Regions from separate parts of the Homo sapiens genome. Here region 1 is linked to region 2. A link means that fine-mapping ties the variant in region 2 to the expression of a gene that starts in the linked region. Tissue or cell type: whole blood. Region 2 holds a variant in brackets; the other region holds the start of a gene. All regions are shown on one strand. Distances are from middle to middle.

Region 1 (8,000 bases), 83 kb after region 2:
AAAAAATAAATGTTCCTTTTTCCTTCTTTTCCCCTTCCTAGATCCCCACCATAAGCATACATTTCTTGTATTAGTCTGTTCTCATGCTGCTAATAAAGACATACCTGAGACTGGGTAATTTATAAAGGAAAGAGGTCCAACTGACTCACAGTTCCACATGGCTGGGGAGGCCTCACAATAATGGCAGAAGGTGGATGAGGAGCAGTCACGTCTTACATGGCAGCAGGCAAGAGAGAACTTGTGTAGGGGAACTCTCCTTTATAAAACCATCAGATGTTGTGAGACTTATTCACTATCACAGAACAGCATGGGAAAGACCTGCCCCCATGATTAATTACATTTCATCAGTTCCCTCCCATGACCACATGGGAATTATAGGAGCTACATTCAAGATGAGACTTGGGTGGGGACAGAACCAAACCATATCACTTGTTTTACATTTAAAGTCTTTTAAAATAATTATTACATATACAACATTGAAAATATCAGAAACCAAGGAGATATTTTTCTGCCATCCCTTCTCAAGTCTAAGTGAATGTTTTCATTTGCCTATGTCAGCTTCTGAGCCTTGTCCATGAGAATCTATGATTTTTATGTTTATATTGCCATAATATAATTATATATTTAAAATAGTCATCCACATGATGTCATATATTTTCAGAAGATTTGTCCTATAACCCAATTAAGCAGCCTGGTACAGCTCTGTAGATAATGGAGGTAATTTTACCACTAACTTAGCCTAAGATATTTTCATTAAAGGTTTCCCTTTTAAGGAAAAAATGTACTTAGCCTGGTTACTCTGAAAGCTGATATAAAAATGTATAAGCCTGTAGAGGTCACACGACATGATGTTTGCCTTTCCTTATCTGTTGTATGCCCCTCAGTGCCCACATGCTTCATCCCCTCACCCCCATGCTTGGCACAGAGTAGGAGCGCAAAAACTATTTGACGCATGAACAAATGATACTTTTCTTGGTTGTATGGTGAAATTACAAAATAGAATTTCTCGGGAACTGGGACAGAAGACTCCAAAGTTAGGCCTGAGAACAGGGTAGGGTGGACACCAGCAAAGCAATCAGGAAAGGCAACCGGAAACCCCATCGTAAAGGCCAGCTACAGTGGCTGAGAGGAAACGTGTGGTTTCCTGAATTGCACTTGTTCAAAACCTTCAACCTTAAAGCATGATGTATGTAAACCTTATCAAGGACCCACAGCTGGCCCAACAGTCACACTTTGGGGTTGTTTTCTTTAAAAGGTATTTGTAATCTTAGGGTTCCTAGGATAAATACGGAGTTGTAAGCCACTGTAGCATGAAAATAAAGCTGCAAAGAATTGAAGTAGGTATGCTTCAGAAGAACAACCCATGCAATATTTTTAGAGGAAGGATTCTTAAGCTAGTGTCCATTGGGTCTCCTCTGGGTACCATAGAAGGGCTTCAGGAAATGGTGAACAGCCTGAGATTGATGTAAAGTGTGTGTGTGTGTGTCTGCGTGTGTGTCTGTGTGTGTGTGCCTGTGTGTGTGTGTGTGTCTGTCTGTCTATGGAGGAGACCACAGCTTTCATCAAATTCTCATGTCTTTTGGTTATGGGGCCTGCTCTTCCTTTCACTTCATTAAGTCGAGTGGGGCTCTTCTAAACCCATTCTTATGTGCTAGGGGCTAGAGATGGGAATGAGAGAGAGTAGGTAGAAGACAAGGGAACTAACTCTATACAAGGCCTTCTATTGAGTCAATATAAGTGAAAGGCTTAGAGAGTGTCCAACCTGCATCAGGACCAATAAATATTAGCTCTTATTATTATTATTACACTATGCCAAAGCACTTCAAGTTTTCTCAACCTCACAACAACCCCACAAGTTCAGCATAAGTCTCATATTCCATTAGGTTGAACAACTAACCCAGGGTCACACAGCCAGTGGTGGAGTTCAGAACTATCTAATTCCAAGCTTAGATTCTTCTTTTCCACCCTGTGGCCTGAATTACTGGCCAGACTTTCAGTCTGGAGGCAGCCTCTCTGTCTACCCTTCAGGCTTTCACATCTAAATCCCAAGGGTCTTGCTCTTTCCCTGAGTCTGTCCATCAGAACTGGCATGAGGCCTAAAAATGAGCCGTTTCAAGCCCAGGCATCATCTACTCACTTACATAACAAAACCTTAGTCATCCCACTGAGATTCCACACTCAAAGCCAATTTCTCTCACAGGGCATCGAATGCTAGTTAAAGATATAAAATCACGCTTATCACAATTAACTCCCTTGCCTTTATGATGCAGCCAAGTCAAAGCCCAAACAGGAATAAATTTTTTCTAGTAGCCACAAATCAGAGGAGTGAGAAAGCTCTATGCCAAATCTACCATTTTCTGATTTCAAAATCCATGCTAAAAACTGCAGTTAAACATCAGCTACCAAAACACCCTTCTATCAAATAAGAATCATGGTGATTGCATGAATTGAGCACTTTCTATGTACTTGCTCTTTACGTGTTATTTCTATGCCTCAGAAGAGCCAAGCAGGCCAGATAGATGTTACTGCTTGAGAGGCTAAGCAAGTCCCATAAGGTCACACACACAGTGAGGAGCAGAACCTGGACTCAAACCCAGGCCTATCTGATGACAGCAACAGTGCTGCTAACCATGCCCTTCCCCCCAGCTCTCTACAGTCAATGTGATTCATGGCACCCAGGACCAACACCGGCTCTTGGCTTTCCCACAAACCACTTCCCTGAAATCTGGACAACTTCTTGGGAGGAGGAGTCATGGGAACAGGACAGATGAACTCCAAAATAGAAGATCGGGTGAGAGGTCCGGCTCTGCTACTTCTGTAGCTCTGTCACCACGGGCAGATCACTTAACTTTCCAAGGCCTCAGTTTCCTCGCCTATGCAATGGAGATGACCGTGAATGCCCCAAATTGCGCTGATCTAGTAGAGAAGAGGAGCTAAGGCTCAGGGGCTTTCCAGACGTGAGTTATCTTTACCTTTCCTTGACTAGCTAATTCAAGACAACTAGGTAGAAGCCCTTTCTCAGCCTCCCCTCTTCGCTCATCTTTCGAGTTCTTGGCCACCCCAGTTCAAACACCAGCACCATTGCCCTCCTCTCAGGTGGCTGCTGCTTAATTTCCCCTCCACTTTAGTAGTTCTTCTCTTGCCTCGCTAGAAGGACTGGTGTTGGGTGCTTGGAATTCTGGCTATTTTCCTCCTGCCGTTCCGACTCGGCACCAGAGTCTGTCTCTACTGAGAACGCAGCGCGTCAGGGCCGAGCTCTTCACTGGCCTGCTCCGCGCTCTTCAATGCCAGCGCCAGGCGCTCACCCTGCAGAGCGTCCCGCCTCTCAAAGAGGGGTGTGACCCGCGAGTTTAGATAGGAGGTTCCTGCCGTGGGGAACACCCCGCCGCCCTCGGAGCTTTTTCTGTGGCGCAGCTTCTCCGCCCGAGCCGCGCGCGGAGCTGCCGGGGGCTCCTTAGCACCCGGGCGCCGGGGCCCTCGCCCTTCCGCAGCCTTCACTCCAGCCCTCTGCTCCCGCACGCCATGAAGTCGCCGTTCTACCGCTGCCAGAACACCACCTCTGTGGAAAAAGGCAACTCGGCGGTGATGGGCGGGGTGCTCTTCAGCACCGGCCTCCTGGGCAACCTGCTGGCCCTGGGGCTGCTGGCGCGCTCGGGGCTGGGGTGGTGCTCGCGGCGTCCACTGCGCCCGCTGCCCTCGGTCTTCTACATGCTGGTGTGTGGCCTGACGGTCACCGACTTGCTGGGCAAGTGCCTCCTAAGCCCGGTGGTGCTGGCTGCCTACGCTCAGAACCGGAGTCTGCGGGTGCTTGCGCCCGCATTGGACAACTCGTTGTGCCAAGCCTTCGCCTTCTTCATGTCCTTCTTTGGGCTCTCCTCGACACTGCAACTCCTGGCCATGGCACTGGAGTGCTGGCTCTCCCTAGGGCACCCTTTCTTCTACCGACGGCACATCACCCTGCGCCTGGGCGCACTGGTGGCCCCGGTGGTGAGCGCCTTCTCCCTGGCTTTCTGCGCGCTACCTTTCATGGGCTTCGGGAAGTTCGTGCAGTACTGCCCCGGCACCTGGTGCTTTATCCAGATGGTCCACGAGGAGGGCTCGCTGTCGGTGCTGGGGTACTCTGTGCTCTACTCCAGCCTCATGGCGCTGCTGGTCCTCGCCACCGTGCTGTGCAACCTCGGCGCCATGCGCAACCTCTATGCGATGCACCGGCGGCTGCAGCGGCACCCGCGCTCCTGCACCAGGGACTGTGCCGAGCCGCGCGCGGACGGGAGGGAAGCGTCCCCTCAGCCCCTGGAGGAGCTGGATCACCTCCTGCTGCTGGCGCTGATGACCGTGCTCTTCACTATGTGTTCTCTGCCCGTAATTGTGAGTCCCCGGGCCCCGAGGCAGCAGGGCACTGAGACTGTCCGGCCGCGGATGCGGGGCGGGAAGGGTGGAGCGGATCGGGATGGACGCGGCGCCAGGCGAGCTGCGCCCTGGGCCAGGAAGGTTTGCTGCTGAGTTCCCCAAATTGGATTCCTTCCACAGCCCCGAGATATAACTCAGTTTGCGGAGCGAAATGAGGGAAAGTTAGAGAAAGGAAGGGAAAGGCTGAGCCCGGCGGTGTCTCCCTAGCCCAGCAAAACCCTCTCCATGTGGCAGAACTCCCTCCTCTCTGCTTCCTTCTGGGGAGATCTCGAGGTCATTTTTGCGCCTTAGGAGGAGCAGAACTTAGTTTCTCCTTGGCAACAGGAGTCTTCTACTTCCCGACGGCTGGGTGATGTTTTATTTTGTTAGACCTGCTCATGACTTCAGTGGTATCAGAAATGGGCGAATGGCGTCTGGGACGATCTTCTCCCCGGTGTTGGCATAGAAAGGGAAAAAGAGGTTTAAGCCAGCCAGAGTGATTTGCAGATGCATAGTTTTAATTTTGAAAAACGCGTGCGTAAACTTTGAGACGCCACGGCTGCTGTTTCTGGTGCTGCATCCGCCAGGGATTGTGGCGATGGAGGCCGAGGCTCTTTGTATGTTTTAGCTGCTGGTGTCGTTTTGACAACCTGACTTGACGGGTTTTGAGTGTATCTTGGCAAGTGAGGTGACATGAAAGCCATTATCTCCGGTTTCAATTTGGTAATGAGGATAGCGATGGAAATGAAATTATCTCCTCATTTTGAAGGCATTTGTTCCTGGAGTCCCCGCCAAGACACCTGGGAGTAGGTGAGGCTTGAGGAAACATTTTCAGTGCTGCTCCTCTCCTTTCTCCCAAGGTACCTGTTCAACAAAAACAATACTTACAGAAATTCCATTGCCAATCCCACGTTCTCGAAATCCTGAGACTTCTGTGAATAGGAAAGTTGTTAAATTTCTTCTCAGAATGTAGCCATTTTGGATATTACTTTCAATGGTGAATGAAAGGGAAATACAAAGCGATTTTCCTTTAAATGAAGGCCTTACTGCTTGCGGAAAAAGAAGTCTGGGGCATCAGCATGCAGGGGTGGGAACAGTATGCCCCCAAAATAAATAAACAAATACATAAATCTATATCTATCTAAATGTAGATATAGGCGCAGATGACATATAGCAGTGGTCTTCAGAATCACCAGCTCAGAATCACCAGCAAGGCTTCTAGAAAAAAAGATGGCTGGACCCCATTCCCCAGAGTTTCTAATTCAGACATTTTTAAAGAATTTTCATTCTTAACAAGTTCCCAGGTGATATGCAAGCTCAGATTCAGGGTTCACATTTGTAGAATCACACTCTAAAACAGGAGTTAGCAAACCACAGCTCACAGGCCAAATCTTTCCTGGCCACTGTTTTACATCTCCCTGGAGTTAAGAATAATTCTTACAAATGAATCTCTGCAATCAATTTGATGAGACCCAAGAGTTTTGAGCTTCAATTGAGCCAAATACTATTTCAAGAAAAATACTGTTCCAAGAAAACGTTTTATTCTTCTCCTTAGTAGATACATATTACAAAAAAATTGTACTCAGCCGGGAGCGGTGACTCACGCCTGTAATCACAGCACTTTGGGAGGCCGAGGCGGGCAGATCATGAGGTCAAGAGATCGAGACCATCCTGGCCAACATGGTGAAACCCCGTCTCTAAAAATACAAAAATTACCTGGGCGTGGTGGCATGCACTTGTAGTCCCAGCTTCTCAGGAGGCTGAGGCAGGAGAATCGCTTGAACCTGGGAGGCAGAGGTTGCAGTGAGCCAAGACTGTGTCACTGCACTCCAGCCTGGGCGACAGAGCAAGACTCCATCTAAAAAAAAAATTGTACTCAATTATTAATACATTTTGAATTCCATCAAAAAATTGTGGAAATGTGTTTTCTCCCATGTTATATTAGTACCTATCAAATATTTATGATTTTGTCTCTTGGCCATAAAACCTAAAATAGTTACTATCTGGTCCTTTATACAATCTTTAGGAGCTCCTATTGTAAAGTTGGGGCCTCACTTATCTATGCTGTGACAAAGTAGACAGTAGCCAAATGCATGGAAATTTTGACCTGAGTTTGAATGTTTTAGTCAGACCAATGCAGAAAGCAGCATCATACAGTGGAAAGAACATTGCATTTGGACATGTCTCTACGGAGACTTGGATAACTCCTAGGGTATTGTGAGGATTGAAGAAAATCAATGGAGTTGAAAAAGATTTTCCAAAAAAACTAGCAAGTTCCAAATATATTTAATGTTGACAGCATTCTTCACAAGAACCACTATTTTCTAGAGAGGATAAGGGCTTTAGCATCAGACATGGTTTTGAATCAGGCTTCATCACTTACTAGCTATGGTAGCAGCTAATTTACCCTTTCTGACCTCAGTTTCCTCATCTGTAAAATGATTATAACCATACTTGTTTTGTAAGATAGTAATGAAGATTTGAAATTACATACATAATATATACATTCATCACCTAGCCCAGTGTCTTGCCTCAATATATTAGCATCATTATTATTACTATTTATAACTTCCATGTATTATTGTTGCCTGCTGGACATAAAAAAAAATCAAGAACGATTATCGTCCCAGGAGATAGTGCTATATACTAAGGCAGTGGCTCTGAAACTTTTTTTTGGTCTAAGGACCCCTTTATACTCTTAAAATTATTAATGACCCAGATGGCTTTTATGTGGATTAAATCATCAGTATTTCTCATATTAGAAAATAAAACTAAGAAATTCTAAACATATGATTGCAAAACAAGATAAAATGTACCTCTTGTGTTTTCCATATGTACAAGGAAAATGTGGGGATTTCACAATGATTTGATGACAATAAGGTTACAGAGATTATAGCAAGTAAAGTGGAAAAATCCTGTTAAGAGCACAAAAGTACTGAAAACAGTCTCTGAAAATTCACGTGTGTACCCTCAACCTGCCACCTTAAAAGGTCTAGAAAACACAAGGATAAACAACCACATATTCTATTCTTTGTGAAAGTGATGTCATCATTTGTTATCTAGCCTCCATAAAATTCACTGTACACTTGTGAGAGAATGAAGGGGAAAAAGGCAAATCACATGTTTGTAATGACAGTAGTTTTGACCTACTGGACACATTGAATAGGTATTGGAGATTTTACACTCTTCTAAGTAATGGACCTAGCAATTGTATCTTTATCTGAAGGGGGAGACATGGGTGACAATAAGCTATATGGTTAAGTTGACTTAAAAAGAAAACATTTTACATGAGTTTTTTTTCTATTTGCCCCTTTCTCCTCAAAGTGGAGTGTGGCAAAATATAGTTCCAACTATTTGAGAATGCTTGATTAGTTGGGATCTAGACAACTGAATGATACTAGCATAATTAAAACAAATTATTTTATTTTCTAGGCAGCATTTATCCATGTCAAATCCATTAGGTTGACATTCAAGTCACTGGATTTGTATTAGAAATGTATTGTTCATTGGGGCTGGTGGCTCACACTTGTAATCGTAGCATTTTGGGAGGCCAAATCAGGAGGACTGTTTGAGCCCAGGTGTTTGAGACCAGCCTGGGCAACACAGTGAGA
Region 2 (8,265 bases):
AATCCAGGTCACGCTGATGCAAGAAGTGGGCTACCATGGCCTTGGGCAGCTCCACCTCTGTGGCTTTGCAGGGTACACCCCCCACTCCTGGCTGCTTTCCCATGTTAAGTGTCTGCAGCTCTTCCAGGTTCATGGTGCAAGTTATCAGTGGATCTACCATTCTGGGGTCTGAAGGATGGTGGCCCTCTTCTCACAGCTCCACTAGGCAGTGCCCCAGTGGGGACTCTGTGTGGGGGCTCCAACCCCACATTTCCCTTCTGCATTGCCCTAACAGAGGTTCTCCATGAGGGCTCTGCCCCCGCAGCAAACTTCTGCCTGGACATCCAGGCATTTCCATACATCCTCTGAAGTCTAGGCAGAGGTTACTAAACCTCAATTTTTGACTTCCACGCACCCACAGGTTCAATACCATGTGGAAGCTGCCAAGCTTTGGGCCTTGCACCCTCTGAAGCCATGGCCCCAGCTGTACCTTGGCCCCTTTTAGCCACAGCTGGAGTGGCTGGTACTCAGGGCGCCAAGTCCCTAGGCTGCACACAGCAGGGGGTCCTGGGCCCAGCCCACAAAATGATTTTTTCCACCTAGGCCTCCGGGCCTGTGATGGGAAGGGCTGCTGCAAAGGTCTCTGACACACCCTGGAGATATTTCCCCATTGCCTGGGTGATTAACATTCAGCTCCTTGCTACTTATGCAAATTTCTGCAGCAGGCTTGAATTTCTTCCCAGAAAGTTTTTTTCTTTACTATCACATTGTCTGGCTGCAAATTTTCCAAATTTTTATGTTCTGCTTTACCTTGAACACTTTGCCACTTAGAAATTTCTTCCACCAGATACCCTAAATAATCTCTCTCAAATTCAAAGTTCCACAGATCTCTAGGGCAGGGGCAAAATGCCACTGATCTCTTTGCATAACAAGAGTGACCTTTACTCCAGTTCCTAGCAAGTTTCTCATCTTTATCTGAGACCACCTCAGCCTGGACCTTATTGTCCATATCACAATCAGCATTTTGGTCAAAGCCATTCAACAGGTCTCTAGGAAGTTCCAATTCAACTCTAGGGAGTTACAATTCAAGGTGAGATTTGGGTGGGGACACAGAGTCAAACCATATCAGGTAGATTGGTTGGTGTCTTTATTAATCAAGCATAACACAAAAATGAGAATTTATGTAAATTTTAATTAGTCATTTGATGTGTTTTAGAAGCCATCATAAGATTATCAAAAAAAATTTCAATAATACAAAATGACAACAGTATTTTTACTTTAGATATGAATTTGAGTATGTTATCAGTCTCAATGCATACCTCAGGATTTTGAGGTTTGAATTGGCTCTCTCATGAAATAAATTCTATGCATTGTTTTATTTTTTGACTTGGCAATAAATAATAGAGAAGACCCAGAAGAAGTTATTGGGAAGAAAGTTGCCTCCAGAGGTAGAGCTGGAGACCATTATTCTTCATGACTATTGATATGGTTTGGCTCTGTGCGCCAACCCAAATCTCACCTTGAATTGTAATAATCCCCATGTGTCATAGGAGGGACTCAATGGGAGGTAATTAAATCATAGGGTTGAGTATTTCCCATGCTGTTCTTGTGATAGTGAATAAGTTTCATGAGGTCTGATAGTTTTATAAAGGCGAGTTCCACTGCACATGTCCACTTGAGTGCCGCTATGTAAGATGTAACTTTGCTCCTCATTCACTTTCCACCATGATTGTGAGGCCTCCCTAGCCATATGGAACTGTGAGTCCATTAAACCTCTTTCCTCTATAAATTACCTAGTCTCTGGTATGTCTTTATTAGCAACATGATAACAGATTAATACAATTATAAATGCAAAATTGCTTCTAAAATATGAGCAAACAAAATTTAGCAATATATAAAAAGCTGATCATAATACATAATACATAGAAAAAATAATCACCATAACCAAGTGGAGTTTCTTCCAGTGATGCAATCTGGTTCAATGTATGAAAGTCAGTCAGTGAAATCCATCATATTAACAGGCTAAGGAAGAAAAAACATCACACGTTCATATCAGTTGCTATAGTTTGGATGTGGTTTGTTTCTGCTAAAACTCATTGTGAAATTTGATCCCCAGTGTAGTGGTGTTGGAAGGTGGGGCCTAGTGGAAGGTGTTTGGGTCATTGAGGTGGGTCACTGATGAATAGATTAATGCTTTCCCACGGGAGTGAATGAATTCTCACTCTCCAGAGAGTGGGTTGTTGTCAAAGGGAGTTTGGCTTCCTAGACTCTCTCTTGCTTCCTCTCTCACCATGTGATCACTTTGCACATGCCTGCTTGATTTTCCACCTCTCTACCACATTTTGTCCCAGCAAACAGCCCCCACCAGAAGGCAGCCAATGTGGTGCAATGCTCTTGAACTTCCCAGCCTGCAGAATTGTGAGTGAAATAAATCTCTTTTTTTAATAAATTGCCCAGCCTCAGGTATTCTTTTATAGCAACATAAAATGGACCAAGGTATCAATTGATGCAGAAAAATTATTTGACAAATACATGATCTTTAGGGGGAAAAGACCTCTTAGAAAAATAGGAGTAAAGGAGAGCTTCCTTAACTTGATAAAGAATGTCTACAAAAAACCCACAACTTAACATCACTATACTTAGTAGTGAAAGGCTGAGTGCTTTTCACCTAAGTTCTTCCCTAAGAACTGGGCAAGGATGCCTACTATCACCACTTTTATTCCACACAATGCTGGAGCTTCCTATTCAGTGCATTAAGACAAAAAAGTAAAATGAAACAAAAATGTACAGATCAGAGAGGAATAAATAAAACTGTCCATGTTTGCAGATGACATACACAGAAAATCTCAAGGGCACTACCAAAAAGCTCCTAAAGCTAATAAGTGAATTCAATAAAGTTGTGGTATACAAGATAAATATACAAAATAAATTATATTTCTATATATTAGCAACAAACATATACACCAACATTTATAATCATTCAAAAAAAGAGAAAAACTTAGTTTTCAATCTAACAAAACATGTATGGGACTCGTGTACTGAAAACTACATAATACTGATGAAGAAAGTAAGGAAGATCTAAATAAATGAAGAGATATTCTGTGCTTATGTAATAGAAGACTCACTCTAGTACAGATGTCCGTTCTCCCAAATTGATAT[C/T]CCAGTTTAGTGCCATTCCTATCAAAATCTCAAGTATTTTATGGATAGAGGTAAGATTATTTTTGGGTTTATAGGAAACAACAAAACACTAGAATAGCTAAAACAATTTTGAAAAGGAACAATAAAATGGGAGAAATCAGTCTACCTGATTTTGAGACTTACTATAAAGCTACAGGAATTAAGACTGTGTGGTATTAGTGGAGGGTTAGACATATGGATCTGTAGAACAAGTTAGAGAACCCAGAAATAGACCCATACAAATGTGCCCAAATTGATTTTTGACAAAGATAAAAAAAATTAACTCAATGGAGAAAAGATGGCTTTGCAAACAAATGGTGCTAAAGCAATTGTACATCTATGGGTACACAATAAACAATGCCCTAAACCTCACACCTCATGCAAAAGTGAACTCAAAATGGGTCATGTTAGTTAAACGCTAACATGAAACTATTAAACTTTTCCAAAAATAAAGGAGAAAATGTTCGAGATCTAGGGCTAGGCAAAGATCTCTTAGACTTGTCACCGAAAACAAAATCTACAGAAGCAAAAATTGGTAAATTTGAACTTCATCAAAATTAAATGCTTTTGCTTCATAAAGTCCTGGTAAGATGAAGAAAAGACAAGCCACATACTGGGAAAAATATTTACAAACCACGCATCTGACAAAGACTAGTATCTAGGGTGTATAAAGAATCCTCAAAACTCAACATTAAAAAAGCAAACAATCTACAGGCTGTGTTAGTCCATTCTGGGACTGCTATAAAGAAATACCTGAGACTGGGTAATTTATAAAGAAAAGAGGTTTAATTGGCTCACAGTTCTGCAGGCTGTACACGAAGCATAGTGGCTTCTGCTTCTAGGGAGGCTTCAGGAAGCTTCCAATTATGGCAGAAGGCAAAGGGGGAGTGAGGTACTTCACATGGCTGGAGCAGGACAAAGGGAGGAGGACAGGTTCCACACACTTTTAAACAACCAGATCTTATGAGCACTCACTATCATGATGACAGCACCAAGGCGTATAGCATTAAATCATGAGAAACTGCCCCCATGGTTCAATCACCTCACACAGGGCCGCACCTCCAACACTGGGGATTACAATCTGACATGAAATTTGGTGGGACACAGATCCAAACCGTATTAAGGCAATAGACATTTCACTAAAGAAAATATGCTTATGGCAAGTAAGTACCTGAAAAGATATTCCAGATCATTAGTCATGAGGGAGATGCAAATTAAAACCACAATGAGATACCGTTACATGTCTTTCAAAATGGCTAAAACAAAAATTAGTCACAACACCAAATGCTGGAAAGGATGTGGAGAAATTGCTTGTGTGAATGCAAAATGTGACAGCCATTCTGGGAAAAAACAATCTGGCAGTTTCCTTTAAATTTATTTTATTTTATTTTGTTTTTATTTATTTATTTATTTGTTTTTGAGACAGAGTCTCACACTGTTGCCCAGGCTGGAGTGCGGTGGTGCAATCTCACCTCACTGCAACCTCTGCCTCCCAGGTTCAAGCGACTCTCCTGCCTCAGCCTCCCAAGTAGCCAGGACCACAGGCAACCACCACCACACCCAGCTAATTTTTGTATTTTTAGTATAGACAGGGTTTTACCATGTTGACCAGGATGGTCTCAAACGCCTGACCTCAGGCAATCCTCCCATCTCGGCCTTGCAAAGTGCTGGGATCACAGGCATGAGCCACCGTGACTGGCCTGCCTTTAAAATTCAAACATGCAACAATCATACAACCCAACAGTTACACTCCTGGCCATTTATCCCAGAGAAATGAAGATTTAGTTCACACAATAACCTGTATATAAATGTTTATAGAAGCTTTATTTGTAATTGTCAAGAAAAATTGGAAACAACACAAATAAGGTGGGATTTGAGAGACTGAAGACAATGGAAAGACCAGGGAGTCTATATGAGTGGAGAGGGAATGGTGAAGAGCTTGTCCACGAATGGGGAGAGGAGTTGGACGAGTTGCATGGTCCCTCCTTCTCCACTTTCCCCTCCCTGTATGCATTTATCCCTGATGTGGAAGGGAGTCAGGTGTGCTAAGCCAAGGAAGAGTCTGAAGAAGAAATGGAAGAAAAAAGAGAAGACAGGCAGGCAACTTCCAGTTCCATCAAGGGGGCAACCATGGAGCAGGACAGCTGCTCCTAAACTCAGAGGGGCAGCAGGAAAACCCCTGCATTTTGCTTTTAATAATATTTGGATTATTTAATTTTTTAAAAGTCAAAGAAGTTTTAAAATTCTAATGAAATACTGAAAAGCTAATTTTAAAAAGTATTCCTTTGCCACAGTAAATTTACTATTATGAGATAAAAACTAATAAATTCACTTAATTAGGTATTTTTTAGGCATCTGGATGAAAAGTACATATTGCATAATTATAGACATGGCTGTAAAGAGAGCAATATTTAATATTAGCTCAACTTTATTTTATATTGACCCAGCACATTTTTTCTGAAAAGCTAAAATAACTGTCACGTTATCTCTTCTAGGTTGATGATATGTAAAGATAGAAAATTAATGTCAAGTTTTACAGATCAGTAAACCAAAAAGTATCTGAGACTGGTCTCAGTCAATTTAGAAGTTTATTTTGCCAAGGTTAAGGACATGCCCAGGAGAAAAGAACATTGAATCACAGAAACAGCCTGTGGTCTGCACCTTTCTCCAAAGACGGTTTTGAGGACTTCAGTATTTAAAGGGGGAAAGCAGGCTGAAGGGGAAAGATGGAAGGTATGGTCATCTACATGTTGCAAGATAAAAGGAGCAGGTAGGAGAACAGTCAACTATGTATTCATCTCACACTCAGTAAATCAGAACTTTGCATAAGATTATGAGCATAGAGTAGCTACCTGTGGAAATATTTAACCTTTTATCTGTAGCTATCTGCTTAAGAACAAAAGGAAAGGCAGCTTCTTGCATGGCTCAACTTTCAGTTTAATCTTTTTCCTCTTGCACAGTCAATTGGGTTTTTATTTTGCTTTCATAGATACCTAGACAGGTCAAGGTGCTTGCTTAAACTTAGTGACTCCTGAGCAGAGGTGTAATTCAAATGGCCATGGCCGTGATGCTTAAATTGTGCTTTGCATTTCACTGCTGTGCTTGTATGAGAGTACAAAAGATTCTGAGAGCCAAATTAAATTTCTAAGTGTTTTAGCTCTTAGTTTCCACAAACAAATCAAAATACCAGTATAAATCCAACTATAGGGCAAGACAGCAATATCATTACATAATGGACCAGATTAAGAATATGCAGTTGCACACATGTTTAGAAAAACCTGAGAAGTTATCAGCAAACACATGTAACATGGCTTGTGCTCAGCTATCCTCCACATCTTCTGCCTGTCTTTTGTGCTACCAGGTTCATTTGCTGCTTGGATAGTTCACTTGAGCCTAAGTGGCTCATAACCATGGGACATCTGTAAAGGATGTTAAAGATGCTCACTGGTCTATTTCTGAATTTATGTTTTCTAGCCAGGCAGAGCACAGCTATAGAAAATATTTTCCTTTGTCAAACATATATTTGATACAGTACTGTCCTTTTGATAGAGGAAGGAGGCAGCCAAATGTCTAGGCAGATAAGGGTCCCCAGTGAAACCCCACCTTCAAGCCGAAGACAGTCCTGGGTAAATCCTTGGACCACACTGAGGACCTGTCTTCTCATTTGGTGCACTTTCCTCTGATCAATCCCCACCCTTCACCTATTTTACATATACCTACACTTTCCTAATTGGTTTTCTACACTATCATGCCCACCTTTGAGTGGTGTCTTCCCTTTAACCGTTTTTGTGTACTCACAAACCAATCAGCATGCACTCCCTATTCTGAGCCCATAAGGGCCCCAGGCTCAGCCATATTAGGGAACTTTTCCTGCCTTTGTGTAGTGGGACCACTCCCACATCCCCTTCCTGCTGAAAGCTGTTTCTCACCTTGTATACTCTTCGATTGTCAGCATCCTCATTCTTCTTGGACACTAGAAGAGAACTCAGGAAGCAGTGGGCAAGCCAGACTCAACTGGGGTGGGCCAAATGAGTGGGCAGTCTCCTGCAGCAGGTAGCATGGCCAAGCGAGGCCCAGGCATGGTGTCACCGGCCGGGGGTCCCTGGCTTGCAAAGTGACAGAGAGAAAAATCCTTTTATCATTTTATTAAGCTTTTAATTTTTTCACATTTCATGATGATCATTTATTATAAGAAGTACTTGGCATTTTTATTTTAAAAAATAGCACAACTTTCTGCCTTAAGAGAAGAATTAAAATGATAAACTTTGGACATTTTCTGTGATTTACATTTGACCTTGGTATGTCCCACAATTCCTTGATAAATAAACTTTTTTTTTCAAGACAGGATCTCACTCTCTTGCCTAGGCTGAAGTGCAGTGATGCAATCATAGATCACTGTAGCCTCCAACTTCTGGGCTAGAGTGATCCTCTTGACTCAGCTTCCTGGGTAGCTGAGACCACAGGTTTGTGCCACTATGCCCACTAATATTTTAATTTTTTGTAGAGACAGAGTCTTGCTCTATTGCCTAGGCTAGAATGCAGTGGTGCAATAATAGCTCACTGCAGACTCCAACACCTGGGCTAGAACAATCCTCTCTCCTCAACCTCCTCAGTAGCTAGGACTATAGGTGTGTGTCACCATGCCTAGTTAATTTTTAAATTTTTTTGAGATAGGGTCTCTCTCTGTTGCCTAGGCTAGAGTGCAGTGATGCAATCATAGCTCACTGCAGCCTCCAACACCTAGGCTAGGGCGATCCTCCCGCCTCAGCCTCCTGAGTAGCTTGGACCAAACTTAGTTAATTTTTTAATTTTTTGTAGAGACAGGGTCTTGCTATGTTGCTCAGGCTGATCTTGAACTCCTGGCTTCAAGCAATCCGCCCCCCTCAGCCTCCCAAGGTGCCAGGATTACAGGAGTAAGCCACCACATGTGGCCATAAATTAAACATTTTAAGATAAAATTCACATTTACATTGCAAAAGGAATGTTTAGAGTTATCTCTGAAGCACCAACTCTGCTGAGGAGCCCATGTCAGCTACTCAGGAGTCTGGGAAGTGGTTTTGTTTATTAATTTATTTTTGAAAATTCACTTTATAATGCTCTGAGTGCTTT

The links. PIP is the estimated chance that this variant, and not a neighbour inherited with it, causes the effect.
Region 1: it holds the start of PTGDR, and the variant in region 2 is fine-mapped to the expression of PTGDR in whole blood (TOPMed, PIP above 0.99).

What each region holds. Positions count from the first base shown.
Region 1 is chr14:52,264,293-52,272,292 of GRCh38, forward strand. PTGDR (prostaglandin D2 receptor) reads left to right here and starts at 3,406. Exons shown (of 2, transcript NM_000953.3): 1 at 3,406-4,368. The coding sequence starts at 3,523.
Region 2 is chr14:52,180,973-52,189,237 of GRCh38, forward strand. No RefSeq gene overlaps it. Among named protein-coding and RNA genes, the nearest start is that of LINC02319, 60 kb to the left of the region's middle. The variant C/T (reference allele first, on the strand shown) is at 3,139.